7 linked regions of the Homo sapiens genome follow. The protein of the gene in region 7 purifies or fractionates together with the protein of the main gene of each other region. This does not show direct contact. Each region holds a gene or a part of one and is shown on either strand. Other genes may lie near its edges. The genes, in order: TDRKH, SYPL1, CNTN1, GPC4, DSG2, SLC20A2 and SLC19A1.

What was found.
Region 1: the proteins of SLC19A1 (region 7) and TDRKH purify together in Homo sapiens (affinity purification with mass spectrometry; one large-scale study listed by BioGRID and IntAct). This does not show direct contact.
Region 2: the proteins of SLC19A1 (region 7) and SYPL1 purify together in Homo sapiens (affinity purification with mass spectrometry; one large-scale study listed by BioGRID and IntAct). This does not show direct contact.
Region 3: the proteins of SLC19A1 (region 7) and CNTN1 purify together in Homo sapiens (affinity purification with mass spectrometry; one large-scale study listed by BioGRID and IntAct). This does not show direct contact.
Region 4: the proteins of SLC19A1 (region 7) and GPC4 purify together in Homo sapiens (affinity purification with mass spectrometry; one large-scale study listed by BioGRID and IntAct). This does not show direct contact.
Region 5: the proteins of SLC19A1 (region 7) and DSG2 purify together in Homo sapiens (affinity purification with mass spectrometry; one large-scale study listed by BioGRID and IntAct). This does not show direct contact.
Region 6: the proteins of SLC19A1 (region 7) and SLC20A2 fractionate together in Homo sapiens (co-fractionation; one large-scale study listed by BioGRID). This does not show direct contact.

The regions. Positions count from the first base shown.
Region 1 is NC_000001.11:151,783,311-151,787,735, forward strand, and holds part of TDRKH (tudor and KH domain-containing protein), read right to left. Parts: intron 1-4,425. UniProt on the Homo sapiens protein: Participates in the primary piRNA biogenesis pathway and is required during spermatogenesis to repress transposable elements and prevent their mobilization, which is essential for the germline integrity.
Region 2 is NC_000007.14:106,101,701-106,106,125, forward strand, and holds part of SYPL1 (synaptophysin-like protein 1), read right to left. Parts: intron 1-4,425.
Region 3 is NC_000012.12:41,027,939-41,032,363, reverse strand, and holds part of CNTN1 (contactin-1 isoform 1 precursor), read right to left. Parts: coding exon 4,395-4,425; intron 3,302-4,394; coding exon 3,145-3,301; intron 1-3,144. UniProt on the Homo sapiens protein: Contactins mediate cell surface interactions during nervous system development.
Region 4 is NC_000023.11:133,321,085-133,325,509, forward strand, and holds part of GPC4 (glypican-4 precursor), read right to left. Parts: intron 3,453-4,425; coding exon 3,061-3,452; intron 1-3,060. UniProt on the Homo sapiens protein: Cell surface proteoglycan that bears heparan sulfate. May be involved in the development of kidney tubules and of the central nervous system.
Region 5 is NC_000018.10:31,535,978-31,540,402, reverse strand, and holds part of DSG2 (desmoglein-2 preproprotein), read right to left. Parts: intron 4,202-4,425; coding exon 3,974-4,201; intron 1,653-3,973; coding exon 1,425-1,652; intron 1-1,424.
Region 6 is NC_000008.11:42,497,507-42,502,531, forward strand, and holds the start of SLC20A2 (sodium-dependent phosphate transporter 2), read right to left. Parts: upstream 3,726-5,025; 5' UTR 3,525-3,725; intron 1-3,524. UniProt on the Homo sapiens protein: Sodium-phosphate symporter which preferentially transports the monovalent form of phosphate with a stoichiometry of two sodium ions per phosphate ion.
Region 7 is NC_000021.9:45,515,018-45,519,130, forward strand, and holds part of SLC19A1 (reduced folate transporter), read right to left. Parts: intron 1,124-4,113; coding exon 641-1,123; 3' UTR 136-640; coding exon of another isoform or gene 1-135. UniProt on the Homo sapiens protein: Antiporter that mediates the import of reduced folates or a subset of cyclic dinucleotides, driven by the export of organic anions.

The sequences.
Region 1 (4,425 bases), on a different chromosome or scaffold from region 7:
AATGAATCAAATATTTGAAATATATATACTTAGATTTCATATTAAATTATTTAAAATTACTTATCTAAGTCCTTTTATGCCTCCAGGGCTTTCCAGAAGCTGCTGCCTCTGCAAGAAATGCCATTCCAGGCTTAGTAAAGGCCTTACTATTTATCTTTGTTGGAAGTACAGTCTTCATTTACTGTCTCTACTTTTGGTTTCTATTTATTTACTCCTTAACGAACAGTGAAATGGGGTTCTTCCCTGCTCCATCGCCAAAACTGTAACTTCCCAGATAATCAACCTACAGGTCATGCATGGAGCCTTATCTCACCCATCTCTCTGCGGTAGCAGGAAGGTGGCCACTCCCTCCACAAAACTCTTTCCTTGGTTTCTGTGCCCTCTTTCTCTTGGTTTCCTCTTATTTCCCTGGAGGGTCCTTCCAAGTTTGGGCTTCTCATCCTGTGCCATCAATTGTTAATGTCACTCTGCTCTCTTTAGACCATTTCATCCACATATGTGGGTTCAATTACTACCTATATGCTAATGACATCAACAATGCTGCATCTGGCCTGATTCAGAAGCTCAAATCTTATTTAGACCACAGCAGTGGACTTCTTACAGGCTTTTGTGCTGAGTTTCTCTTTGACACTGTATCTTCATTTTGCTGCCAAGCAAATTTTAACATGTTCCTCATTATATTTCCTTATTCCACATAGTTTCTCAGCCTCCCTCTCCACTCAAACGTCTCGTGCTGCCTCCTCCAACCTCTCTCAACTGAGGTCCTTGCTATTTCACTAAAAAAGGAGAGCATTCAGAGAAAATATCCACAAGCTTCTACACATTTGCCCACCTTCCTCCACCTGTGCCTAAATGCTTGCTGTTCTCTCCTGTGACCACAGATGAACTGTCTCTGCTCCTAGCACTGAAGTCTTTCATAAAAGCACTGCTCCACAAGTTCTCCTTGCTTCTACTACATGATTAACGTTTTCTTTCCTCTCTACTGGATAGTCCCATCAGCAGACAAACATTCTCTGTTCTTAAAGAAAACCCTTCCTGGATTTCACTTCAACTACTTCCCATTTCTTTTCTTCCTTTTAAAGGAAAACTCGAGTGTCAATATATCTGTCCTCAAGTTCTCTTCTTAAATCCACTCTAACTGCTCACATCAGAGTCACCAATGATTTCATACTGCTCAATCCAAAGATCGATTCTCAGTTTTCATCTTACCAGATGTCCCCACAGTATTTGGCACAGCTGATGATTCCCTCTTCTCTGAAACACATTCTCCATAGCACACCCTCCTGGTTTTCCTCTTTCCTTTCTGGCTATTCCATCAGTCTCCCAGTTGCTGGTTTCTTCACATTTTTCTAACCTCTAAACACTGGAGTGCCTCAGGGATCTGTCCTTCGCCCTCTTCTCTGTTCTACCTCACTTTCTTGGTGATCTCAAGTCTCATTCACGGACTGGCTTTAACTCCTATCTAGATGCTGATAACTTCCAAATTAATAGATCCATTTAGGACCTTTCTCAACTGCCTACATGGATCTCCATTTGATGTCTAATAGACATCTCAAACTTAACACTGAGCTCCTGATTCACCCCCTTCCCATAATCTTTGCCATCTCAGCAAATGGCAATTCGTTTTTTTTTTTTTTTTTGAGACAAGGTCTTTCTCTGTTGCCAGGCTGGAGTGCAGTGGCGCAACCATGGCTCACTGCAGCCACAACCTCTGGACTCAAGCAATCCTCCCATCTCTCAGCCTCCCAGTAGCTGAGACTACAGGTGCATGCCACCATGCCCGGCTAATTTTTGTATTTTTTGTAGAGAAAGGGTTTCACCATGTTGCCCAGGCTGGTCTCAAACTCCTGGGCTCAAGTGATCCACCAACCTCAGCCTTCCAAAGTGCTGAGATTACAGGTGTGAACCACTGTGCTCTGCCTCGACTGCATTCTCTTACTCCCTTAGTCATCCTCTCTCTCACACTGCACACCTAGCCTGTCAACAAATCTTATTTGCTCTACCTTCAAATCATCCAGAATCTGACCACTTTTTCTCTTTGCAGTTCTATGACCCTGCTCTAAAACACCATTATCTTTTCCCTAGATTACTGCATTGCTTAATTACGTTCCTGCCTTTGCCATTGTCCATTCAGTTTATTCTCAACACAAGAGCTGGAGTAAGTACTATGTGCTAGATGCTACTGTGGCACTAAAGACACAAAAATGAAGAGATAATGTGTTGAGTAGCTACTATGCCAGGCAAATTACATAATTTTATTTTACAGTCATATAACCCTGTAAGGCAGGAAATATTAATCCCATAGAAGAGTACCCATGCTTGAAGAGGTTATCTAATCTCTAACCCAGAGTCTGGGTTATTCTTGCTTGTAAAAAACCTTGTAAAGTGATTTTAGAAATCCTTCCCCACTCTTCCTTTTACCTAAGCTCTTAGGGTAACAGCACCTGTATTTTTATTCTTTATTTTGATCAACATATTCAATTCAAAATTAATACTGGTAGAAAGTACTGTAGGTGGTTAAAAAAACACTGAAGACTAAAAAACTAAAGATAGGTGATAAAAAACTGAAAACTAAATATCTGTATTTCCAGATATTACAATCTAGTAGAACAAAGCAAGCTGGCTTTAAATAAGATTTGCTTAAAAATGAGTAAATGTAACTTATGCCATAATTTACCTCCAGGTACAAAAATTCAACCCAAATAATTATAATAAACAAAAATGTATTTCACCCTGGGGGGAAAAACTGGCTATATCCTGGTAAGGCTAAAAACATACTCATTAATACAAAACCTACTGTGGAATAAAACTTAGGCTTTCAGGGAAAGCACAGTCAATCTGGAAGAGTAAAGAGAGAAAGGAGAACATCTAGCACCGAAATCTCACTGAGGAGCAGATATAGTCAGGTAAGGGAGGCTGGAGGTAGATTTCTTACAACAGTCATCCTCTCTTATCCTCGAGGAATATGTTCCAAGAACCCCAGTGGATGCCTTGGAGTACTGAAAACTATAGGTTTTTTCAATCTGATAACCAAGATGGCTACTAAGTGACTAAGAGGCGGGTAGCATATACAGCATGGATATGCTGGACAAAGGCAGGATTCTCGTCTGGGCCAGGATGGAGATTTCACCATGCTAGTCAGAATGGTGCACAATTTAAAACTTAAGAATTGTTTACGTATGGAACTTCCCATTTAATCTTTTTGGACCAGGATTGACTATGGGTAAGTGAAAGCAAAACCACGGAGAAGGGTAGACTACTACACTGTCATACAGATGACCAGAATTTGCATCTGGCCTCACAGCTTTACTGATCAACAGAACTGAATAAAGTTCTTCAGAGAACTACCAGAAGTTTGCCAAATCTATTTTTTCTATATCCTGGTTTTAAACAAATTTAATCCACCTTCTTGCCCGGACTCAAAAGCCTGAGCAAATAATAAAACGGCCTTTTACTACCCGAGGTGGGGGATGGGTACCTCTTTTCAAGGGTGTCGTCTATTTTGGGTCATTAGTTACTCAGTGAATTCAGTATATCATTTTTAGAGACTATCAATCTGAGGGAATACTGTTCTCTCCCGACCTTTTTAGAATGTAGGACAGAAAGGGTTGAGGTTAATGTAGGCTGTTTGTTTTCATTTATGAGGTTCTTTTCCCAAGTCATTGGATAAGCTTCTCTTTTTTTAAATACACTGCAAATAAAAGCTTTCACCATCCTGAAAGTTTGGATGGTATTATATAAGCATCGTTGTATATACCAAAGGAAAGGAAACAAGTTGTTTCATAAAGGAGATTTTTGACTTAAATAATTCTTGAATACACACCTCCCAAACTGCTACTTTCCTACATTGAGATGGTTTATTCTTGGTGTCTAGAAAGAATTTGACTTCTTTTGTCCCCTGATTACTTTAGATATATATATTTTTTGAGACGGAGTCTCACTCTGTTGCCCAGGCTGGAGTGCAGTGGCACGATCTCAGCTCACTGCAACCTCTGCCTCCCGGGTTCAAGCGATTCTTCTGCCTCAGCCTAATGAGTAGCTGGGACGACAGGCACCTGCCACCATGCCCAGCTAATTTATGTATTTTTAGTAGAGACAGGGTTTCACCATATTGGCCAGGATGGTCTCGAACTGCTGACCTCATGATCCGCCCACCTCGGCCTCCCAAAGTGCTGGGATTACAGGCGTGAGCCACTGCGCCTGGCTTAGGTATTTTCTTATATGACCACTAAAGTGCAAAGCTTGTTTCCATTATTAATGCATCTTGGTTAAATAGTGCTAGCTCTTTCTTGTGTGCTGAGCACGTTGGGGACAGAAGGAGGAAGAAGAATTTCTACTTGGAAATATTCATAGTCTAGGAAACATAAACACCAAAACAGGCTGGGCACAGTGGCTCATGCCTGTTAATCCCAGCACTTTGAGAGG
Region 2 (4,425 bases), on a different chromosome or scaffold from region 7:
CTCAGAATAAATATGCATGAATACACAGAGTGAAAAGGCCAGAAAATGAGTCCTGAGCATATACCCACGTTTAAATTAAAAAAAAAAAAAAAGAAAAGAAATGAGATACACAAATTGAACCAATGGAGCAGAATAAAAAGGCCAGGAATAGACTAGTGTGTATAAGACAAATTGTATCTAACAGAGTTGATTTGTAGATCACGGAGGAAAGGAATGTGGTGGTTTTAAAGATATGCCCACAAACTCTTTGATACAACTCCCATCAAGAGATGGAGCCTGATTTCCCTTCCCTTGAGTGTCAACTAAATGTAGTGACTTGCTTCTACAGAATAGAATATGGTACTGTAGAAGAAATGGGATGTCTTTTCTGAGACTCAGTTATAAAAAGATTACAACTTTTTTTTTTTTTTGAGACACAGTCTCGCTCTGTCACCCAGGCTGGAGTGCAATGGTGCAATCTTGGCTCACTGCAACCTCCACCTCCCAGATTCAAGGAATTCTCCTTCCTCAGCCTCCTGAGTAGCAGGGGTAATTACAGGTGCCTGCCACCATGCCCGGCTAATTTTTGTATTTTCGGTAGAGACGGGGTTTCACCATGTTGGTAAGGCCAGTCTCGAGCTCCTGACCTCCGGTGATCCACCCGCCTTGGCCTCCCAAAGTGCTGGGATTACAGGCTTGAACCACAACGCCCGGCCAAAGATTGCAACTTCTGTCTTCCTTTCTCACTCTCTCGAACTTTCTCATTCTCCGGGGGAAGCCAGTGGCCATGTTGGGAGGATACTCAGGCAACTTTTATAAACTCACATGGTGTGGAATTGAGGACTGCCAGTAACCACATGACTGAGCTTGGAAGGGGATCCTCTGAGGTTTGTCAACAGTCATGAGAATAAGCTGGAGGCCTTGAGATAACAGCAACCCCAGCCAACAGCTTGACTGCAACCTTATGGGAGACCCTATGCCCAAACCACATAGCTAAGCTGCTCCCAGATTCCTGACCCACAGAAGAATGGGTGAGGTTTATTATCTCACTTAATAAAAGTCAACAGACCTTTGTTTTAAACTGCTAAGCTCGGCGTAATTTGTTATACAGCAATAGATAACTAATACAAGGAAGAGCTGTTCAGTAAATGGTCCAGATGAGCTGCACACAAAAGTAAAAAGTCTTTAAAAAATGTGAAGACAATATAAAAGAAAACCTGTGACCACATGAAAAGGGAGAATTTAAGATTTTTTTTTGTAAAAAAGAACCATAAAAGATTGTTAAATTCAACTACAGAAAAAAAATCTTAATCAAGTCAGCTGTTGAATGTAAAACAAGCTACCAATTAGATGAACATATTTATAATAAACATAATGTCACAAAGGATTTACTAGTATATAGATCTAAGAGAAACCCTTGCTCACACGTACTAAGAGACATATAAGAATGTTCATGAAAAATGGGGAGGGGAAAAGCAACAGGGAAATGGATAAAATACCATAGTATATTCTTACACTGGGAAGTTATACGGCAAAAAAGATATAAGAATTACAACTGCCTACATCAACATAGATGAATCATAGAAATCCAATGCTGAGTTAAAACAAAAACAAAATAAAAACCATGTTGCATATGACTACCTAGACTATAAAACCATTTTTTAAAAAGCTCTGTTTACCTGCCTACATTACACCTGCCACTATTTTTGTTCAGGCCCTCACCATTTTTCATTGGGACTAACCCAGCAGACTCTTTCTCACATTTCCAATTTCATTCCAATTGATACTCATCTTCTATAATGTGGGCACTATAGCTGCAGTACCCAGTAATGCTACTTGTGAGTCTTGAACACTTTACATGTCACTAATCTAAATTGATATATACTCCAACTGCAAAATACACACTAGATTTTGAAGATTTACTATGAAAAAGATGTGAAATACTTCATTAATTTTTATATTGACGACTTGTTCAAACAATAATCTGGATAGATTGGGTTAAGTAAAATATATTGTTAAAATTAATTTCACCTGTTTCCTCTTATTTTAGTGTGGTTAATAGAACACTGAAAATTACTATGTGGTTTGCATTTTTGCTTCCCATTGTATTTTTTTGTACTGGACAGAGCTAGTTTAGAATGATGCCAAACTGATCTGAAATAAAAATCTGATCATGTCCTTCCCATTTAAAGGAATTTCCTCAATTGTTTTTCAACCTAAATTAAACAAAAAATGCTCCAACTTCTTAATTTGGCATAAAAGGCATGGCTGATCGATCCTCAACTTTATCTTTCTAGATAGATTTATCTGCAGTCTATTCACTGCCAGGTACTGTATGATTCTGTCACATTATACTGCTTACTGTTCCTGAAACATACCATGTATTTATGTCTTAAATGTATATGCTTCTTCTTCTGGGAATGCCCTGTCTCTGATTAGCTCATCTTTTAAGGCCCTACCCAATTCCCTGTGGTAGAACTCATGATTCTTCTCTTGAGCTATCATAGACATTAACTCTATTATATATGAACTCTACTATAGGCATTTTTCTTGTGTAACTTGCTTTCTAAAAAATAAAATGGGGCCGGGTGCAGTGGCTTATGCCTGTAATTCCAACACTTTGGGAGGCCGTGGCAGGAGGATTGTTTGAGCCCAGAAGTTCAATACCAGCTTGGGCAACACAGTGAGACCCTGTCTTAAAAATAAAATAAAATAAAAAAATTAAATGGAAAAATGAATTTCCTAATATAACAAGTAGCAAATAAATGGCATACTGCACTACAGCTTGTTGCTTTCAAGACTATCACTTCTACTGCTCCTTTGCCAGACTGTCATGTCTTTGCACCTGGTTTTGTTTAGGATTTTCAGTGACTAGCAGAAAACCTGGCACATAGCAGATGCTCACTAAATAACTACTTAATTAAGGAAAAAATAATTTCCAATAACTTATAAATAAAACCATATTTTGAATCTTACATAATTATTATTTTAAAGCTTTTTGTTATAAGGATAGATAAATATCATGACAGCAATTCTGGTCTTTATCTTATAGAAAGAAGGGACAAAAGCACATATTTTATATTAAACAAAGTACAAAATTATGAGGGCAAAATATCCAACTATCTCACTTCTCCCTATATTCTACTGCTATTTTGATCTAGACTGGAAGTTATATACTGGCAGCCTGTTGGTAAAACCCGGCCTGCAAATATATTTGTGTGGCCTTTCCAGTATTACAAAAAAATGTGAATTTGTTGTCATTGTTTTAATATCAGGGTATTACACATAAAAATTTGGATTTCCTGCTTTTCCTGAGTGTGTATGGGAAAGCTGAAGAATGGCAACATCAGACCTACATTCTCATAAAGCAACAATCAGAGAGAACTGAGTGACAGATGTCACTTATGGCAGAGTATGTGCTTTCCAGGTTATCCGCTTCTCCATTGTCTTAACAGCCCTCAGGATGTGTGTTAGTTGCCAGTAAGTAATCAATGACATACTATTCTTTTTCTTCCAAACATCTTGCTTCACTCATTTACTTTAGAGGGTGGTTCCTATGACCATTTCAGTTTCCAACCCTAGTCTAAAATGAAGGAGTACTGGTGTTCTGATTTATATTTTCTGGCCACTTTTGAAACTTATTTTCCCATATACTCCTACCCCATGAAGAATGACTGAAACTACTGACATGGAATTCTATCTGCACAGTGACTAGTAAGAATCCAGGGGCGGGGTGACAGCAAGCTTCTGTTTAGTCAGAAAAGTTACATGTTCACATACAGCCCCAAGTATCCAGAGAAACAGTCCCACTTACTTCTCTGCCCACCAGACCCATACTAGATGACCACCATGGCAGATCTTATTCAGAGAATTGTAACCTCAGGGTGAATAGTACAGCCTGGTTTTCCAGAGCACTAGTCTCCAAAGTAGACTGGAGTACCAGAAGAAAATATGTAAACTTCTATTTAGATCTACTTTCAGACTTAAATAAGGAATTGAAGCTTTATTGCAATTAATATACCACTGAAACCCATGCTGGGCATGCACATCAGAAGGTCACATGTCAGTACAGCATGCTGGGTATCCTGAAGGTAAGGGGAATCTCATACATGGAAGGACAGACAGTGATAACCTCATCTATTCTTTCACTTTTAGTGTTCATGCATTACAATGTGAGTGGGCCTGGATTTATGGAATAATTTGTCTAGTTTTAACCAAATCAACCTTCACAAAATTGACCCATGGCTTTAAAATGTCTTCAAAGAAATAGATTGGTAACACACACACTCATGTATAAAAGAGAAAATGGAAGCATTCATACTACTCTATGATTACAATCAACAGCCATATTACAAGGTAAAAACAGACTACTTAATCAGATCACAAGACGGTGGCACAACAATAAAAAATTATCAGAATAGTATCTGAAGCAAGGATTTAAAAATA
Region 3 (4,425 bases), on a different chromosome or scaffold from region 7:
CGGAGTCTCGCTCTGTCGCCCAGGCTGGAGTGCAGTGGCGCGATTTCGGCTCACTGCAAGCACCACCTCCAGGGTTCACACCATTCCCTGTGAGCCATCTTTCTAACAGGAGAGTTATATGATTTGATTTGTGTTTTAAAAAACCCCCCTGTCTATTGCATAGATAATAGGCCTTGAGAGGCCAACACTGGGAGGCAAGAGGATCATTAGAATTGCAGCAGGGCCAGGCAGAGATGTGGAAATATGTAAATCTTAGCACATTTTAAATATGTGAACTGTGATTGCTGTATTGTAGGCATTTAATGTCTATTTGTTGAATGAATGAATGAACAAACAGCATAATGCTTATAAACATTAAGATCTAGTAGTGTGTTATAATCCTGGCTACGTATTTAGGGCATGAAAACCAAAAGAAAGTACTAAGAGTCTTTTAAATTTAGAAAAAAACCTGTAATTTCTGTTTGTATTTACACATTTGCCTCATTAAAATAATTTAAATGATTTGAAAATCCAAACTTAAAAACAAGAATATTCTAGAATGGTGTTATTCACCAAGCATCTGACATTTCATAACGTTAATTCTACAGTTTATTTGTACAGTTATGGTCAGAATAAGAGATAAATAATAGAAATTCTAAAATCAATAAGAATGTTGTCCATTAGTTGGCAAAAAGAGAAAAATATGAAAAATATCCTAAGTTTGGGATTAAAAAAATACTCTTCTATACATGAGCTATATATACTGAAATATCAAATTACAGCTGTGGTATGCTGAAATCAACCGATACAACCCCTGAAATCCAATTGTTAAATTTTTAGGAAATGTATGAGCAATGTGTTAAAAATGTAATTATTAAAATAGAATTTATGTAAACTTAAATTTAAAAGCTTAAAACAAATGTAGTAAATACTCAAAACCCATCATTTCTTAATATTTTACTATATTATAATGTTGTCAAATGTTTTTTAGGTTCTTATTATACCTGTATGGTGGCAATTACATATAATGATGTGCTACTGGGTAGCTCTTCACAGCTCCATATTAAGTGACATCACTTGGAAAGCTTGAAATCACACATAATGAGAATATTTACACCACAGAAACAGGCAAACATTATAAACAGGGCTTTCCCCTATCCCTAGTGATTCTACTGTTTAACATTTACCAGTGCCATTAGTGATAGGTAAACTGATGTTACCATCACTGCTACATCATCTCTTGCTGAAAACCTCTAGTCTAAATCCCAGAAGCTAGGTTCTCCTTTCGGTGAGGAATGATGAACCAAGGGTGAGTACAGAGAGCAAAAGCTCGCTGTGGCTGGCTTCTACACAAGAGAAAGAAGGCCCAGGGTTCAAGAGCAATTTATTTAGTTATTTGTGCTTTACCTTCCTTGAAATAATGGCCATATTTCCCTCTGATTTCCTTTTGTGAAACTGCCCACTAAGTGTAAAACTATTGAAGATGTTGACAAAGTTCTGAATATAGAAAATGTTTCAAAAATAAGAAAATTCTATTTTCCCCTGTCAAATTAGCAATGACTAAAAAGACAATAATATTAGAGTGGTACAGTGAGAAAAGCACTTATACTCAATGATAATAGGAATAGAAATTAGTAAGTGTTTTTGAAGAAATTTAGCAACCTAAAACACTTTGTCTTAAATTTAACCAGAAGAAAGATTAATTTATGAAAATGGACTCTAAAAGTATTATTTATGATAGAAAAAAACTTTAATGAGTTTGCATATTTGTTTGAAAGAATATCATTTATAATTTTTAAATAATTTACAAAAATGGAAGCTGAAACATGAAATTATATATGTATACAGAGTGACTATAAGTAAATTCAACTAAGCATTAACAGTAGCTATTTTAGGGTATTTGGAACATGATTATTTTCTTTTCCTTTCACATCTCTGTAATTTCTCTATTTTCTTAAAAGACAAAATTGCTGATGATTAAACTAAAAAAAATCAAAGTTCTATTTTGATTTGTAAAGGATGTATATATGTATTGTGGCAAACTTCACAAAAACATGGCATACAATTGAAGCCAGCATTTATTAAATACCATTAAATACTCTGGCATTGTGGTAAAGGATTTTTTGTTGGTTTAATATATAGCATATTTATTTCTTTATATCAAAATCACCAAATTTTCAATTTTCTTTTTTTTTAGTTTTCTTAAAATTTAACTTTTATTTTAAGTTCAGGGGTATATGTGCAGATTTGTTATACAGGTAAACTTGTGTCATGGGGTTTGTTGTACAGATTAACCAAATTTTCTTATAAATTATTTATTATCATCTTTGTTCTAGGATCTTCTGGTAATGTCAAAGCCTCTCATACATTTCTCAAATTAACATCTATTGAAATTCAGTATAATTAAACTATATCATGCATATAGGTTAAGAAAAATATGTCAAAAATTAAATAACAGATTGCCAGAAATAAAAAAAAAGAAATGACTGCCTCAAATATATGTATTTCCAAATCAAACAAAGGTGTGAGAAATAGAGTTTGTAGAAAAGGAATAGATAAGATAGAGAAAGAGAAAAGACAAAGGGGCTATAATTTAGTGTTTTTCTCTTTTACTACTATATCAATATCTATAGTCCAAGTGAAAGAGTTATAAGAGTATTAAAAATAGCCTAGTGTATTTCCTTTTGATAGAAGTTTGGTTATTATTAAATAATAGCCTAGTATTATATAGTATTCAATAAATTATGCCATTTTAATTGTGCTTTTTATTTGAAAATATTTAACTGACAAAGATTAAATATATTCAAGGTGAACAACATGAAGATTTGATATATGTATACATTGTATAATGATTACCACAATCAAATAAACTAATATGTTCCATACTGTATATTGGATCCCAAAAACTCGTTCGTCTTATGTCTGAAAGATTTCAACTGTGCTTTGACATCCAGATAATAATCAAGAAGTATGTGGTATGTCACAGACTTACTTTTGTGACTCATAAGAGGAGAAATACCAAGTTTCAGGGAATCCTTGATATGTCCAATCTACTTAGGAAAATATGGACACTGGTGTATCAGGCTTATCCCTACCCTTGGGAATCCACAGGGTCTAGAAACTCACAAGTACTTAGTTGAAATGTGTCTTAAATGACTCACTTACCTGAAATTTTGACTTGAGACACCACTCCATCTCCTCCATCACTGTGCGCGCGAACCTCCACAACGTATTCTCCATCTCTGGGGATTGGGACTTCTATGGAGTGTTTGTGAGTTGAATACAGCTTGCCATCATGCTGGCCATCAGGTCTGTAGAGTACCTTATAAAGTACAGAAATGTAAATATGCAGTAAAGTCATAATAATGAGCCAATGCTCTAACACTAAAACCAGAATAAAAATGCTTATACTTTGATTAACAAAAAGTAATAAATTTAAAACAAGAGGAAAAACTAAATTTAAAACTAGATGAAAAAAATCATGTTAGTTTCAATTCACAATAGTTGATTTTTGCAAGTTTGTAGGATTATCCAAGGAGATGTGACTTAAGCATCTGAATTTTATTTTTTGAGATGACCCAAAATAAAAATATAGAAAGAATGAGTCTTTTTAAGAAAAAAGTCCAAAATGAGAACTTTTAAAATATATTGAAATGGTCTGAAAATTGTCTCTCAATTTTTATTTTTACCATTTTCCATAAAATTTGGTATCCAGTGAAAAATGTGATAGTGTGTGATATAAAGAATATATTTAAAATAAGCTTTTCTCCTTTTTATTCATTTATAAACAGTAACTCAGTTTATCAAGGAGTTTTCTGGGTGCTGGGCAACCCTATCATAATCATTGCCAAACAAAAATAGTTTCGTTCTCTCTCCTCCTTAAGCTCTGATTATTCTATTTTATCTTTAAAGTATTCTACTTATCTTACACTTTTGACATAACATTTTGCTGAAATTCACTGAAGATAATGTTTTCCATTTCAAAATGTATCATGGCACTACGTTATCTGATTCTGCTCTACAACTATTAAATAGAATAAGAAAGTTGAATGGGGCCAGCCGTGGTGGCTCATGCCTGTAATCCCAGCACTTTGGGAAGTTGAGGTAGGTGGATAATTTGGGGTCAGGAGTTCGAGACCACCCTGGCCAAGACGGTGAAACCCTGTCTCTACTAAAAATACAAAAATTAGCCGGGTGTGGGTGTGGGCACCTGTAATCCCAGCTACTTGGGAGGCTGAGGCAGGAGAATCACTTGAACCCAGGAAGTGGAGGCTGCAATGAGCCAAGATTGTACCACTGCACTCCGGTCTGGGTGACAGAGCAAAATTCCATCTCAAAAAAAGAAAAGAAACCCATCTTGGGTTTCACTGAAATAGCAAGAATTGCAAACATTAATCATCACTATTTGTATATACCTTATATCCCGTCACTGTAGATTCATTTGAT
Region 4 (4,425 bases), on a different chromosome or scaffold from region 7:
CACATTGGGTCACATACCTTTGTTGCATAAGTAAGGGTGTCTGAATCTTAAATATCAAAGTCAAGCTTCTTGGTTTCCCATGGTTAATTCTGAGAACGACGTCCAGAAGAATGCAACACAGGGAAGGCACAACTGCTTACTTCCCCGTAACCTGGGAGGTAGGGAGACGCAGAACAAAGGCAAGCCTTTTCTAGCCTTCAATCCTCTAACCTGCAATCAATTGTCTCTAAACTTCTCAGTTTGGCTACCCTCCCCATCCATGTTTGTAGGTTCAGTTCTCTAAAATAGCTCCAACCTTGCAAAGTGAGGCTAACACCAAGGCAGGCTTGAGTCTGCTGTCTGGCCCTTTTTCTCCAAGAATCAACACTGAAACTCAAAGGAAGGGGAGAGGGTTAACATAAAGAAAGTACTTTTCAAACTAGCAAAGGGCTCTTGACTCTCTTTCTCTTTGGCACAAGTGTACACGCACATGCACATGCATGCACAGATGTCCAAATCACACAGCAGTGTCTTTCTGCCCTTTCAGTGGAGGATGAACATGAGGAATTGTTGAAGGAGGGCAAATGTGCTGGGTGTACCACAATGCAAATAACTTTGATCTGATTCACTGTGCACTGTTTTAGGGACTCTGACAAAAGTATGTCCAAGATTAATAATGGTTGCTGGGGTTGGCAGAAGTTCAAGAATCAGATATTATTCCTTTAATTATAACAATCATCTCCCCACTTACCCTCAACTCCACCCTCATATGCCCCAATAAATATTTGCAATTTACGATGAAAATATCAAAGAAGGAGTGAACAAAAACATACTAGAAAGAATTGTTTCCTGACAGTTTATGGCCTGGAGATGAGAGAGAGAACAAACAACATAATGAATGCAATCAATCAATTAATCCTTATTATCACCCAATTCTAATATGAAAAATCCCATGAGCACCTATTTTTCATAATAAACCATTCTTTAGAATCTTTATCCTCACTCTGGTGAATATAAGTTTTCTCTCCAACTAGAGTGACCCGTGTATCCTGGCCAGTCCACGACAGTCCTGGTTGCTTACTAACAATTAGTGACACCTGGCCAGCACGGTGGCTCATGCCTGTAATCCCAGCACTTTGGGAGGCAGAGGCAGTCAGATCACCTGAGGTCAGGAGTTCAAGACCAGCCTGGCCAACATGGTGAAACCCCATCTCTACTAAAAATACAAAAATTAGCTGAGTGTGGTGGCACATGCCTGTAATCCCAGCTACTAGGGAGGCTGAGGCAGGAGAATCGTCTGAGCCTGGGAGGTGGAGGTTGCGGTGAGCAGAGATCTCGCCACTGCACTCAAGCCTGGGTGACAGAGCGAGATTCCAAAAAAAAAAAAAAAAAATTAGTGACACCTGTTGTCGTCTGAGCCTGGGAAGTGGAGGTTGCAGTGAGCGGAGATCTCGCCACTGCACTCAAGCCTGGGCGACAGAGTGAGACTCTATCAAAAAAAAAAAAAGTGACACCTGTTGTCTGTGAATAATTTGTTAATAAGCACCTCCCGATTTAGACAGTAAGTGTCCTGTTTGGATAAAAAATTATATGGTCACCCTAACTGTAGATAAACTGTGAGAGGCAATCAGGTGTCTATTTTCATGTTTGTAGTGCTGTCCAGTTTTTATGCTGTCCATTCTTCCAGTCCTCAAAACAACCAAATGGCCTCAGCAGAATCTGCTGTTGTTGTGCATCCAGGCTTTTTAGCAATGGCCTACAATTTGGCTTTCCCTTTGAGGGCCTAAAGTTGACAGCACTAAGATCAGCCTTGCAAAGATCACTTTGCCCCAGTATATTTATGTTTCTTCCCTGGTATTGACTCATGGAAAGGTAGAGGTGGTGGGGTCTTCAAGAAGTTTTCAGATTTCATTTGGGGGAGGGGAGTGGCAGTGAAGGAGCAGTGGAACCCCTTTCCCCTTGAAATCTTGCTCAGATCCCTGCTGTGTGAAGTCAAAGAAAGCAAAGATTCTCTGGTGGAACTGGGAGATAAAGGCACAGTTGCACGGTCTCACCCACAAAAGACTTCCTTCTCTGTTGCTTCTGCTCAATGAGGCCCCTAAAGCAATATCCTGCTCAAGAACAGAGTCTATCGGCCAGGCATGGTGGCTCTCACCTGTAATCCCAGCACTCTGAGAGGCCAAGACAGGTGAATCATTTGAGGCCAGGAGTTCGAGACCAGCCTGAACAACATGGTGAAACCCCGTCTCTACTACAAATACAAAAAATTAGCCAGGCGTGCTGGCACACGCCTGCAATCCCAGCTACTAGGGAGGCTGAGGCAGGAGAATTGCTTGAGCCCCGGAGGTGGAGGTTGCAAGTGAGCCGAGATCCTGCCACTGCACTCTGGCCTGGGCAGCAGAACAAGACCCTGTCCCCACCTCCCAAAAAAAAAGAACACAGTCTATCTAGTCCAATTCGCTGAATTTCCCAATGAGGAAACAGGTTCATTTCATCAGCTCCTGATCACATACTACAATTTCACTTTCTGTATTGGTAATTCTGCAGAGTCATGAGTCAACAGCAGTGTAGTCCACACTAATTGTCGTAGAAACCTGTCTTCCAAAGAGCTCTGAGTACACTTTCTAACAAGGAAACATATGCTCACAGAGATTAAATGCTTTCCTAGACTATGACTAGTAGGCTGACAGTCACACAAAACAACCAAATGTGGAGCCTGTGTGTGTATGTTTGTTTGTGCAGAAAGGAAGTAGAATAAGAGCTAAAATGGGTATGGCAGTATTAACCTACTTTAAAAATTAAGATTCCTGAGTAAACATATATTCCCCCTTCTAAGAATAGCTACAAAAAAACCCCACAATAATAATGATAGGTGAAGATTCTGATCACAGTATTGTTTAGTAACTCTAAAATGTACACGTGTAAGGACAGTGTGTGGGAGAGAAGAGGTAAGAGAGGAAGAAAAGGCTGCCATTGAACCAACAGAATTTTGGTGATTTATTTTTCTACCTTTCCCAAACATTCTTTTAACATGAAAGAAAACAAAACAAAAACAAAACAGAGAAGACAAGGAGTACTTACCACGGAGACCTTGCTCACGACATCTCCCGCAACCGCTAAGCCTTGAGCGAAAGTACGGGCTGCTACAAAAGCACGAGTAACCTGGAGCTTCAATTTGCGAGGGACATCTCCGAAGGGCTTCAGCTGCTCCGTATACTTGCTCACACATTCCAGATACTCATCTGTAAAGTGGTACTGGGAGTTCACCAGGCGGAACATCCGCTCCAGGAGGCGAGCCCAGAAGTCATTTAGCATTTCTTCCAGGTTCACATTTCCCACCACGTAGTAACGTTTCAACTCTACGAAGAGATCTTTAAATAGCTCAGAATTTTGCATGTATAAATGGCCATATGTCTTCACAAACATATCATTCAGGGATTTCTCTGCATTTTCAAGTAGTTCTTTGAAGAATTCTGAAACCAACACCAAAAAAAAAAAAAAAAAAAGGAAAAACGAGAGTTTTCAGTGTTTAAATAACTGCTTTTCCAGTAAATTTGAAAACTGGAAAAAAAACACAATTAAATTGGAAAACGTGTTTGTATATAGGGTGAATTTCTTTTGGGGAATGTGGCATCTCAGATCATTTGCCAATGAAAGGAAAGCTGTGTCACAAAGTCACTTACATAGGTGTCTGAGAGAGGAAAAAAATGAAAATTTAAACCAACAGCTTCTCAGGAGTCAGTACAATACACACATGCTCTCATTCTCTCTCTCACTTTCTCTCTGTCATAGGTGAATAAAGAAAAACTGGAAAAAATGTGCACATGAAGTCTAAAACATGAGATTTCCCTCAACTTTTTACTTAAGAATCTAAGCCAAAGTTAACCATGCCTTCTAATTGTAACCTAAGAGCAGGACAGGTGTTTTCAAAAGTCGTTATTTTACTTGGGCCTGAATTTTTTTTTCATTTCTCCTTTTCACTTATCTATATGATCATGCACTATAGCTGCCTGGAAAATGGTTGAGGCCAAAAAACATAATCAAACACCCCTACAAGCAAGCACATAAGTTTTCTGAAAATAAGTTCCTGGGTGTTTCTCTGTGACAGTAGTACAAATTGGGAGTATCCAGCTTGATCCTGGGTTTCTAAAGGATTTATACAATAACATCATGAGACTCTTTTCAATGTTCCTTCTGATAGTGTGTGTGTGAGTGTGTGTGTGTGAGAGAGAGAGACAGAGAGAGAGAGAGCACATGCATAATGGACTTAATAATAAATATAGCATATTTATGAGACAACATGAAAAAAACTGAAAAATGTAAATGAGAATACCTGGTTATTTCAGATTTACTTTTTGGCCACCATACAGCCACAGCCTAAGGTTAGAGATTTTAATCTCTTAACTACAAATGGCAAACTAGTTTTCTTCTGAAGCTTTCCTCAGG
Region 5 (4,425 bases), on a different chromosome or scaffold from region 7:
CCTACCTACAAACTTGGTAAGCTGAGACAAGTCATTTACCGTTATGTATCTGTATATGTAGCCATAGCATGGAGATGATGGTATAAAAGTACACTGCAGACTGTTGAGTGCTGTGCTTTCAATTGCACATCTACCAATGGCTCTAATACAGCAGTCCCCAACCTTTTTGACACCAGGGACTGGTTTCATGGAAGACAGTTTTTCCACAGGGAAGTTAGGGGTAGGGGGGTTGGTTTTGGGATGACTCAAGTGCATTACATTTATTGTGTACTTTATTTCTATTATTATTACATTGTAATATATAATGAAATAATTATACAACTCACCATAATGTAGAATCAGTGGGAGCCCTGAACTTATTTTTCTGCAACTAGATGGTCCCATCTGGGGGTGATGGGAGACAGTGACAGGTCATCAGGCATTAGATTCTCATAAGGAGCACGCAACCTGGATCTCTTGGCATGAGTAGTTCACGATAGAGTTTGAGCTCCTATAAGAATCGAATGCCAGCACTGGTCTAACAGGAGGTAGAGCTCAGGTGGTAACACGAGTGATGGGGAGTGGCTGTAAATACAGATGAAGCTTCACTCACTCTTCCACCACTCACCTCCTGCTGTGCGGCCTGGTTCCTAACAGGCCATGGACAGGTGCTGGTCTGTAGCCTGGGGGTTGGGGACCCCTTGTCTAACAGACCTCTCCTCTGTCACTGCACTAGCCTAGGCTGCCTTGGAGGCGGCCCTCTGTCCATATTCAGTGGTCAAGTAGAGTGATATTTCATGTGACCTCAGGATGCAGTCCCTTGTTCTTTTATAAAAGGAAACCCGAGGTCTTTGGAGCGTGGGTAGGGCAGGCAGGACTGGTTGAGAACATCTTACGGTCAGGAAGGACAGGAAGTGCTCAGAGGGTCTGCCTACTTTTGGTGCTGACGAAGAAACAAGGCAAGCGGGGAATATCAGGGAGGCGGAGCTCTGATAAGTTGAATGTACAAAGCAGGATTGATTGGAATAAACTGGGTTTGTAAAAAACCTTGTGCCCATAACCCAAAGTCATGCAACACATCTTTTTTGAGCGCTTACTACATGCAAGGCTCTGTTCCACACACTGGGAATACAGCAGTGAAGAGAACAGACAGCATGCTGCCCTCACAGAGCTCATCAAAATGGGAATACCAGTGAAGTTTATGCCAATAGTTCCTAAGTTACTGAAACCAGAAAAGGATATACATTTATAAAACAAAATTCTGAAGAGTCTTATATTATGCTTTGGTGATTTGCCAATCATCAGTTGTTTCCCTATTCACCCTCAAAGTGCTCTAGTGTGGTTAAAGAATAACTGTGAAGAAATCAATGACTACCATAGTAACACATCTCCAGGAGTGCACTCAGATTCCCAAAAGCACAACAGAGTGGCTTTTAAAGACTTACATAGCAGGAGCAGAAAGGCCAAAATCATGAGCGCAATTGCTGCGGGTCCCAGGCCCACATAGGAGTCATGCTGTGCTTCCCTGCAGCCGCTGCCATGCAGACACTCACAAACTGTGAGTGTAAGGACCTGCTTTTCAGGACAACTAAAACCCTGATTGTCTGAAATCAGGAACTGAATTTCACTTCTCCCAAGCTTTTTCTCACTTTGTTGCAGCAGCACACTGGTACCTACAAGGTTGGGAGGCAGAAGGAAATAAAAACGAACGATTACCAAGGATGAGGCAACATTAAATTCCACAAATGTTCTTTCATTGCTGATTGTATTTAACTCCAATTAGGTACTTTGTTCTTCCTTCACTTATTGAAGTGTGCTCATTAAAATTTGTCTATAGGCCCTGAATATGCAGTTTAAATAGCAAAGGTTCAGACCTGGACACCTACTTTCATGATGATTAGCTGTAACCAATGTGTGTGGGTCTAGGAAAGCTAGGAACTGTTCTATACACTGGGAATACAGTGACAAACAAGTGGTGAGTTAACATTTCTACTGAATGACCTTTATTTTACCATTTCTTTAAAAAAAAACTTCATTAAGGCAATTTTTCAAACATAGTAATAAAGAGAAGAGCATAACCCCCATGGTACCCATCCTCAGCGTTAATCATTTTCAATGATGGGCTGATCTTGTTTTCTCTAGTCCCTTCTTTTTTTGTTCTCAACACTATATACATTCAAAATGGAAAAAAAATTCAAACCTACAGAAAAGTTGAAAGAATATTTTAGTGAATATTAACAAACCCTTACTAACTGTTTACATTTTGCAACAATGCTTTCTTTGCCCTCTATATACCCACTTTTTCTTTTTTTTAAAGTTTCTTAACTATTTCAAGGTAAGTTACAGATAGCACGACATTCTTCAGCATGCACCTTCTAAGATCAAGGAACATTAGCACTCTTACACTTCTTCTTCTTCTTCTTATTTTTTGAAATGGAGTCTCGTTCTGTTGCCCAGGCTGGAGTGCTGTGCTGCCATCTTGGCTCACTGCAACCTCTGCCTCCCAGGTTCACCTGCCTCAGCCTCCTGAGTAGCTGGGATTACAGGTGCCCACCACCATGCCCAGCTAATTTTTGTATTTATAGTAGAGATGGAGTTTCACCATGTTGGCCAGGCTGGTCTCAAACTCCTGACCTCAAGTGATCCACCCGCCTCACCCTCCCAAAGTGCTAGGATTAAGGCATGAGCTACCATGCCCGGCTTCAACTTGTTATTGATAATATTCTGTAATATACAACTCAGTGTATTTGTAAGTTAAATTTATTAGAATTTTAGAGTATAAGGATCATAGGGAGTTTTTTTTTTGAGACAGAGTCTTGCTCTGTCACCCAGGCTGGAGTGCAGTGGCACAATCTCGGCTCACTGCAAGCTCTGCCTTCTGGGTTCATGCCATTCTCCTGCCTCAGCCTCCCGAGTAGCTGGGACTACAGGTGCCTGCCACCACGCCCGGCTAATTTTTTGTATTTTTAGTAGAGACGGGGTTTCACCGTGTTAGCCAGGATGGTCTCGATCTCCTGACCTCATGATCCGCCTGCCTTGGCCTCCCAAAGTGCTGGGATTACAGGCGTGAGCCACCGCACCTGGCTGGGAGGTTTTGTTAATTCAGATCACTGAAATATATAAGGAAACTAAATATATTAAATCTGTAAATACAGTTTGAAATATTGATGGTGTTTAATTTGTTAATTGGACTAAACATTATTCAAACCCTCTTAAAATGATTTCAAACATTTGCTAGACTTAACACAATAAAGCTGTAAATTAAAAAAAAAACTGACTATTGTCTTTGAAATTTTACTGAAATGAACCCTAGTTGTTTAAAACAAAATAGTTTTCTGGATAGACTTTTCTGCATTCAGAACCACCCTGAAGGACATCTGAAAACTCACATCAACACATCATATGGTCCATGTGTCTAGATGTCCTGGATGTGGACATATGGACATGTCCACTGACATGGGGAAGGGGGGAATCAGATAACTCCCCTGTTATGTTGTTTCTATCATGTTCTAGGTTTGAGCTTTACTTACCCCCAGTTAAACCAAGGTATCCTCAGCTTTAATCAGGGAATAATGTTGAAGGAAGGATTAAATATGGTAATACATAGGGTGGGCTAGCAGAATGCCTAGCACATAGCAAGTGCTCAATAAATGTTGTTTTAAATGGAATTACTGTTACTACAAGATTTTTAGAAGGCAAACTACTACGATTGTGGTGCTGACAAAGGCTTGGTACTCCTCACCTTACCAGACAAAACTACTTCAAGGGCTATTTAGGGAATACCCAGCTACCTTCAAGACATTTTAGATTATTTTTCTTCTCTCCATAAGCATATAAAAGATACTATATGTCAGTAGGTTCAGGACCTCATTTCATAAACTCCTTTAAAAAACTATATTGGAAATATAATTTATGAGAAGAAATACAACTTACAAATATTTTAGATATCATGCTTAATATTTAGATTTCTATGTAGTCCAGTGATTTTGCTTACTTTCTTGGCGTGCTATTTTCCATTTTTCTGCCATGCCAGGTGGTTTGTCAATGACGGAGAAACTGAAAGGGCCACTGTTTGGGTGTCCATCCAGGTCCTCTGCAGTAACATTCACATACTCTGCATCGTGACAGATTGTCTGCACAGGCTCTATCAGTGTGGGACAGTTGTCGTTGATGTCTTCAACATTGATAAGGACTGTGCCAGTGATGGTTTTTCTAGGATAATCTTAAAAATAAGAGAGAAAAAGTATGTACATTCTGTTCCTATTGCTGACAACAGACATAGTTTGAATTCCCTTGCCAATTTGGAGTGGAGAAGGTACTAACCACTTAGGACATTTTCTATCCTAGATATGTTTCAAATTTGGACCAAGTAATATCTTTTAATCCACTTACCAAGTAGAAATGTGAGATTTATCTACTGGAGAAATTAGGTGCTTATTTCATCTT
Region 6 (5,025 bases), on a different chromosome or scaffold from region 7:
CTCTGTTCCAGCCCAACCCTTGCTGGACCTGACCCTTTTATTCTAGATGGAAATAGATACCAGTGGGTCACCATTCTTTGCCACTGAGACACACATATACTTGAAGAACAATTCAAGAGTCTCCCGGTCATTTGTTTCCTCTTCCAGGCTAAATAATAGAAGTTCCCTACCCTCTTATCATAGGTATCATTTTCCAACCCTCAATTGGTTTTTTTTTTTTTTTTGAGGTTCTTTGTGGAGCCAAGTCTCTTTGTTGTGGAGCCATGAACTAGACCCAGAACCTTAGAGACTGGCTGAGGTTGGGCACGGGGGGAGGGACTCACAGACTCACAGAACCACGCAGGCCGCTCATGTTATTACTCCCCAGTACCCAAGCCTTCCTATCAGCCCTTCTTCTGATTCATGTGCTTCTAACTCCTTTACAAGCTGCAATAATGCTCAGTAGACCTTCATAATGCCTTTCCTCTGAGAAGCTGAAGGCATTTCCCTAACTAATATTACAGTTGACTCAATATCCTAAACCAGTGCAGGGTTAAGTAACTTGTTGAATTGCAAACCAGTTCAGGAAGGGAGAATCTGGAACTCCAGATTTCTATCTAAATATCATTTTATGGAGAAAGATGCTTTGATATTTATTGCACTTTATAACAAGTTTACCCCCTCCACATAATAATAATAGTTTTAGGTGCAAGTGAAACTGTGAAGCTTCTCCTCTTTGTAGGAGGATTGCAACAGAGGACTGAGAGTGGGGGGCAAGGCTTCTGGGGTCAGTCTTGTCACTTGTCCCCATCACTTCCCAGCTATGGAGGAGAAAGGGAAGGCACAGCCCAGGTGGCACAGCTGTCTGTCCTAATCGTCTTTGGCAAAAGCTCAGAGGAGCTGAATGCTGAAGTATCCTCAACCCACCCCACTCATCTTGTTTCCCTTTTCTTCATTTTCACATTTTTTTTTCTGCCAGTGTAGTTACTGAATGTCAGGGGGCCCAGTTTCTGTGTCCTGCCTTGTTGTAGCATGTGGGTTGGAACTATGCTTTCCTTGTGCACCGCATGTGCTGTGGGGTGCTTAATACATGCTAAATAATGACAGCAGTACCCCGTATGCCCGAGAAATCAGCCTTCCTCCTGAGGGCCATATCCCATTATGTTACACTTGTTTTTAAGACGGACGGAAGCTGAAGGCATCCCTCCTGCTCACTGCTCCTTCCACTTTAGATGAACAGCTGGAACTCACATAACACAGCCTCTTCCGACAAGATTTCCTTTAGAGAGAGAACATTCTAGGGATGTGATCACTGAGCATCCGGGCTCCAAGCCGAAAGGCAACCTGTTACATAGCGCAGTTCCCATTTAGCCATGCAGGCAAGAGACCCATTAAAACCTCATGTGAGGGAAGAGGTCCCAGAGAAAAGGTTCCTCTCTGCGTCCCTGAGAAACCCCTCAAAGCTTCTGAGCAGAAGGCTATCCCTCTAGGCAGAAAGTAACAGTGAAATAAATCTGCAACCGGCAGCGATTCTGTCAGAGCCTCTGGGTCTGTAACTATTTTAAGACGTGGAGGAGTAGGATGAGAGCACGGGCAGCTGGACAGAGTGGCTCCAACAGGACTGCAGGGGAGACGTGCGGTCACCTGCGGCGTGGGAACAGCAGGGCAAGGGCAGGCGGGCTCGGCTCCTGGACTCCTCCTGCGGCCACAAAGCTGCCCTGTTTCTCCGCACCTGGACCCCCAGTGTGTGACTCTGCATAGAGCTCATCATGATTTGTCGCCCAAGGTCATAACCAGTCACAGCCAGCATCATTTCACCAGGCACACGGGGTAGAAGCAGCGAAGAGAATCGCAGCACCGGCAAACACGAGGAATTCCGGCACTAACACTTATATAATGAAAACCTTCTCCGCTCTCACTCACCGCTGCCACTCTCTCACAGCACGTAAATCATTAAAACGAACACTCCTCAAGTGTTTATGCGCATTTTAGCAACTCATCATAAAGCACATGCTTCCTAGTAGTAGAAAAACCTACAGAAACGTCTGTGAAATTAAACAATGGATAAATTCGAATCAGCTTTTCTCTTTTGCAGGACTAAGAACTACAATAGGTCAAGTGAATACTGGTGTGAAAACTAATACCCAACTACAGTGTACCTTTAAAAATGCTCCACTGAGATTCTGATGGTGCCTTATTAACAATTAGAAGTAAGAAGTAATAGCAATAAGTCAGAATTTTTTGGATAAAAATATATATTATGAAGGATTACCGGAGCAAAACCCCTTTTACTGCTGAAGATGACATTAGAGGCTTCTGTTATCATTATAATTCATCTGGGCAGCAAATTTCTCTTCAGCTCAATAAAAACTAAGTATGAAGTAAGTTTCTTTCTAAAAATAGCCCAAGAACTCAGTACTACTTTCCTTTCTTACACTCTTTTCCTACTAAATGGAACACTGAAGTATTTCCTTTCATTGTTGACACTTTATGTCATTTGCATTTAAAATCAGACAATACATAATAACAAAGAAGTCTTTAACTAAATCTTTTCAAAATGGGAAAATGGCTTTCACAATACTAACTGTGGACCTGCCTCCTTCCTTGCTCTAGAGATGACAGGCATAGATAGCTGGTGAGCACCTATCCTATCGCCTAGGAGAACTGTTTTATTAATAACAATATTCCTAAAGCTGATACATTTACTTGCTAATTGATAAAGAAATTCCTGCCTGGTTCTCTGCTGTAAGCAAACTGTTTGGCTTGAGGTCAGTCCACATTGAAAACACACTTCTAAATAAGCAAGATGATTCAAATTTAATTTAAAATATTCAATATCAAAATCTTTTGTTTTCTTCAGTACAAATTTAAGTTGGTAATAATGTGTTAGATGAACTGCAGTTAAGGTTACAGAATCCCATGGCCTTTGGTTACTTTTGATAACTAACTCAGTCTAAAAGAGGATGCTTTAAATTATTCTCTAAAACCTTCTTCCTAAATTAATTTTTTAAAGTGCTTCTCTTTAGGCATATATGGGTTTATTTTTTAAGCACAAAATCCCCCTTAAAAGGATAAAAAACTGTCCATCTATACATTCAAGAAAATTACATTTGACACTCCATTATTTCTACAAAATAAACTTGTAGCACAGAGTATAACAGGAATTAACTTTCAACATTTTTTTCTCAAGAATTAGGTTACCATAGTAGAAAACAAAGCTCAATGACACAATACAATGTTTCTGTATTTACAGAAACCATATCCATTAATCAAATATTTTAACATAAAATAATAATCTACAGATTGCTTTTGCAAAAATAAGTAAGAATCGAAAACTTTTTCTTGGGCAAATTGAATAAGGCAGATTTATTGCAGTAGGAGACATTTAAAGAAAAACCTTTTGCCACCTCTCTTAGCTTTCTCTAACGTACCAACCTGAAAGCTTCCAGTTTTCCCAAGAGATAAACATTACTATGACGGTAACATTAGGAAGATTTAAGGAGAAAAGAACAAAGAGAAGTCTTAAAATTCCACCCAGTACTTACAAGTAGTTTCCAAGAAAACTGAGCCACAATTCTTCAGAAGACTGCTCTCCTGATCACAAACACAATCTGAAGTCTAAAATAGATATCCTACCACATTAGGCCGAGAAGTCACATTTCAGCTTGCTAACTTCTACTTTTACAACTCATAGAACTAACCCCGGCTAAAATTAACTGCAGCCAAGCAGCAGGCAGGAACACGCTGATTTGCATCATGTGTGCCGGGATTTATTCACTAGGACAACATCGGTGTCCTCTTAATGGGAAATGCGGCCAAGGGGCGTGCCCTGGTGAACAATACATAGCATCATGATTATGCTAATTACTGAATTCAGTCCAATAATACTAACTTCTTTTAAGTTGTTTTTGCAAGTACTGACAAAGAGAAGGAGTAAGCTTTTTCCCAACAGGCATTCACTTGATTTTTAAGCACATTCAAATCAGACCAAACTTTGGCAACAAGGTGGCAGTGCTGTGTGCTCTTCACAAGCAAAAGCAAAGCAAAAGGACATTCTGTCCGATTATTTAAACAGCGTGATTAGATGCAGCACTACGTGAAATTAAATAGACACAGAATATACATATCAGTAAGTCTATCCACCAGAATCCTGAAATAAAAGCTTTTTCTTTCTCTATAATGAACTGATTGCAGGGACTTGCTTTCTGGCTCTGCCTCCTCCTGCACCTCCCAAGGAGTCGCTATGAAGACACAGATTCAGTAATAAATCACAACTGAGAATAAACATCTCAAATATTTGCAAAGGCATTGTCCTTGGCAAGAAGCATTTTAAGGTGGATTTAACTCCTTGGCTAGAAAAATTGTCCTCTGTAGGTGACTGACCATCTACAAAGCATGTTGGAACTCAAGTTAACAGGTAAAGACCCCAAACATACAGCTGACACTTAAAAGAAAATCAGAACATGAAAAACTTTCTCTCGAAAATATAAGTACAACTTATAACAAAGACACAAAACCGCTTAGTATCTACTCAAGACGGTTTGGGACTAGTTTGCTTTAGACTAAGTTCTGATGACATATTTTGCTCTTATTGAACACTCTATGAAAGATATCAAAGCACTTTACAAACATCAATCAAATCTCCAAGCATCTTTGGGAGATGTCATTTTCCTCTTTTTTTTTTTTTCCCACAGACAGGTAAAAGACAGGGTAATTCCATTTCAACGACTTCAACCAACCCTGGATCACCCCATCTCCTCCTGAGACCTTTATAACATCTTCCGTATTAACCACTTACCTATAATCCTATAGACCTTTTCAGAGCCATTTGTTTTCCTCATTTTAAAATGTCATATGTTAGTTTGGACTTCAGGAGATTCACTCTACTTAACACCCAGATGCCAGGCCTGAACCCCAGGGGCTTAAAAAGCCCTCCTTGACTCTCTCTTGCAGACAGGTATCCTGCAACATGGATCCCTAAAACATGGCGATGCCCTCAGGAGGCACTGTCCATCTGCAGCCTGCTGCCCAAAGCACAAACCGGTT
Region 7 (4,113 bases):
GGCTGCCCTTAGGGTGGGAGAGAGGAACCAGCTCCGAGGACCAGAGCCGCTGCTCCCCTCTGATGACAATGTGTCTGCCGCCAACCTGAGATGGCTTTTCCACAGAGACAGAGAAGCCACATGCAGTTCTTCATTCTACGTCAGTTAAAAAAAAAAAAAGCATCTTTCAAAAAAGCAAGAGCACCAAGGATGACCAGCAATGTCACAGCTCAGCTACACCTGAGGGTCCCGGCTCCCACCCTGCCCTAGAGGGCTCACAACTCCTGTGGGGCCAGTGTCCCCTGAGCTGGTATCCAAGAGGCCACTTCACTAGCCCTGGGGGGCAGAAAGGATTTGTCTCAAGCCCCCCAAGGGGCATGAGCCAGTGAGGCCTGGTGGACGCAGAAGCCCACCACCCACCTCTTCCAGCAACAAAGCCCGCGGGGCACAGTGCAGGGACAGCATGGCCAGGCAGCTGCCCTGAGTGTCGCCAGCACGCTGTGGCCACCGCCAGAGTGCGGCACAGGGCAGGGGGAATCCTAGGGGGCCTGCTAGCAGGATAAGCGGAGGCCCCCATTGCTAAGGCAGGCGGCCCTCGAGGCAGGGGTCGTGGGGATGCACTGAGGGCCGCCTGCAAAGTTACCACAGGGGCGCCCGAGAGTCACTGGTTCACATTCTGAACACCGTCGCTTGGAAGACACTGCAAACCCAGCTTGCTGACACCAGGAGGATGGACAGCCAGCTGGGGACAAGTCTCATCTGCAGCCTCAGGGCCTGAGGCTTGGGCGGAGCACAGAGTGCAGGGGGAAGGGGTTGTCACTGGGCTCAGGAATTCAGCTGCCTGCGGGGCCGGGGCCTGGGCCAGGTATGGGTCGCTCTGTCTCTGCTCCAGGGAGGCTGGCCCCACAGCCCCCAGGCTGTCTTCTGGGGAAAGCGGCGGGCTCTGGGCTGGCTGCAGGCCTCCGAGGCCCTTGTCCTGCACGCTCAGTGCCTGTGCTGCCTTCTCCTCCGCGGCACTCCTCAGGCCCTGGGCCGGGGGCTGCCGCGGGTGGTGGCCCCGCTGGCAGTGCCGCAGGCCATCCAGCATGGCCCCCAAGAAGTAGATGATGGACAGGATCAGGAAGTACACGGAGTATAACTGGAACTGGAAAGAGAGGCCGGGTGAGGCGGGTGGGGAGGGCCTGGCTGGGACACTGGCACCCTACACCCCGACGCCTGCTCCCAGGCTCACCCTCCTCCAGCTCAGAGGCTGACCCTGAACACTGCACAGCGGTCAGAGGCCAGCCCCAGGAGCAGGTGCCACAGTGCTCACCACAGCCCCCCCGACCTCCACCACCTGGCACAGGCCTGAAGGGGGGTTCCCACCATTTCCCAAGAACCCCTCGGAACCTGGCAGGTGGCCTGCTTCTGCGTGGCCTGCGGTGTCTGCTCCCGAGTCCCCTGCTTGGTGGTGCTTGCTGCCCCCCCATGGTGCTGAGACAGCGGAAGGGTGCCCATGAGGGCCAGAACGTCCCGCCTGGCAGAGCAGGGTGAGGAGAGCCACAGCAGGTGACCAGGAGCTGATCCCCAGGGCTTCGCGCCCAGAGCAACCCCCAGCAGCCTGCACATGGAGCCCGTCTCCATCTCGGCAGCGGAAGCTGTGCTACGATGACCAGAAGGAGCAGCACCAGCGTTGGCCACATCTCTCCTGATTCTCGCAGCTGCCAGGGGCAGGAGGGACTGGAGATGTCCCTGGGACACCAGGGAGGGACCTGATCATTCCCGGAGGTGCAGAGGGTTCAGGAGGCTGCAGTGCCCTCAGGACATCCGTGGGCAGAGCCCAGTGAGTCCCGCCCAAGACCCCTGAGGCCCCAGCTCCACATCCGCAGGCCAGAATCCCTGCAGCCCATCGGCACCGGCACCCTTCCAGGACAGCTGTTTTTAAAGCAAACTGAGGAAGATGGGGCTGACACGCTTCTCCCTGCTCTTCTCCTACCCAAGACACTGAGATAAACACCTGGGAAGACTCTGAAAGCAGGAGCGAGGAGGACAGACTGACCAGGCCCTCGGGGTCTGGGGAGCTGTGCCACACAAGGGCAGACTGGCCGGGCCCTCGGGGTCTGGGGAGCTGTGCCACGCAAGGACAGACTGTGCCACGCAGAGCTCCCTGGGGGCTTTTCTTTTCACCTCAGATATTTTGAAACTGAAGAAGGCAGCAGGCTGGAAAAGACAACAGATGCAGAAAAAAGAGCCCATGGAAGCAGCTCTCTCTGGCCTAAGACCCAGGGAAGGGTCAGCCCAACATGAGGAAAGACCTTTCGACAGGAATCGCCCTGCTCCCCGCAAACACCAGACCTCGGCTCCACCCACCATGTCAGCAAGGACCCCCCACCCTCGCCAGCCTGTAACAAGGACCCCCGAGTCCCCTGCGGGGTGGTGTCAGACAACACCAGTGGGCACTAGAGCTTTCACTCCCACTGGTTGGTAAAGACACCCACCCTCACCCCCAAGGAGTCAGCAGAGACCACAGGGAAGCCCAAGATGTCACCCCCAAAGCCTCATGGAGTCAGTGGAGACCATGTGGGGAGCCTAGTCACCCCCGAAGCCTCACGGAGTCAGCAGAGACCATATGGGGAGCCTGGCCTCTTATCCTCACCCAGTAGTAAGAGCGTGCCTGTCCTGTCCCCCTCCATGCTGGGGGGTGTCAGAGGAGGTCAAGCGGGAGTCCAGACTTTCACCTACCCAGCAATAATGAGAATGTCCCAACCCCAGGGGCATCAAGGGGGCCACGAGGGGAGCTGGACTCCCATCCTTGCCTGGCAACAAGAAGGAGCCCCCACCCAGCCACCCACCCTCCCTCAGGTGTCACAAAGGCTGAGTGAGAGCCTGGACTTCCACCCCACCTGCCTGTAGCGAGGTGCACACCCCGCTTGACCTGCAGGAGTTGCGTCAGCCACAACAGGATGCTGAAATTACATCATACCCAAAATGCTTGCATCTCACTAAAAAATCCCTTGGCACACTAAACCACAAAGATCTCAAACTGAAAAACAATTAATAGACACCAACACTAAGACAACACAGACAGTAGAATTCGCCAAGAAAGATCTTAAAGCAGCCACCATAAAAATGCTTCAGTGAACAATAACAAACATGCTGGAAACAAATGAAAAAACACAGTCTCAGCAAAGAAATAGGAGAAATAAAAAAAATTTAGAACTGAAATGTACAATAATCAGAATTTAAAAACTTAATGAATCATCTCAACAACAAAATAGAAGAGGCAGAGAAATGATCAATGAACTGGAGGTAGAACAATAGAAATTATCCAACCTGAACAAAAGAAAAAATGGACTGAAAAAAAATGAACAAAGCCTCATTCCTTGTGGGACTATACAACATGATCTAACATTTGTGACATGGGGGATCTAGAAAAAGAGGAGAAAAGGAGTGGGGTTCAAAAAGCATTTCAGGAAATAATGGTTGAAAACTTCCTAAATTTGGTGAGATGTACACTGCAGATTCATGAAGCTGAGCAAACCCCAAATAGAAAACCCAAACAAAATCACACCAACACATACCATATTCAAACTTCTATAAGCTAACGATAAAAATAAAGAAAAAATCTTGGAAGTGGCCAGAGAAAAATGACACTTTACGGGCAAGCAATTTGAATAACAGTAATTGCTCATCAAAAATCCTGAAAGCTATGAGGAAGGGGCACCACATTTCTCACAGGCTAAAAAAAAAGAACACTGTCTACCCAGCATCCTATATCCAGTGAAAACATCCTTTGAGAATAAAAGAGCAATCAAGACACTCACAGATGAAGAAAAACTAAGAGAAGAAATTTGTAACCAGCAGATCTGTCTAAAATAATGGCAAAAAACAAACAAAAAACAAGTTCTCTAAACAGAAAGGAAATTACTAAAGAAGGAATCTTGAAATAACAGGAAAGAGGAAATACCACAGTAGGCAACATTATGGGTAAATAAAACAGACTTTCCTTCTTTAGTTTCCTAAAATATGTTTGATGATTAATGCAAAAATTACAATATTTTCTTATGTAGCACTAAAGGTATGTAGAGAAAATATTTAAGATAATTGTACTGTAAGCGGGAGATGACAGTGACATAAAGGCAACGTTTTTATACT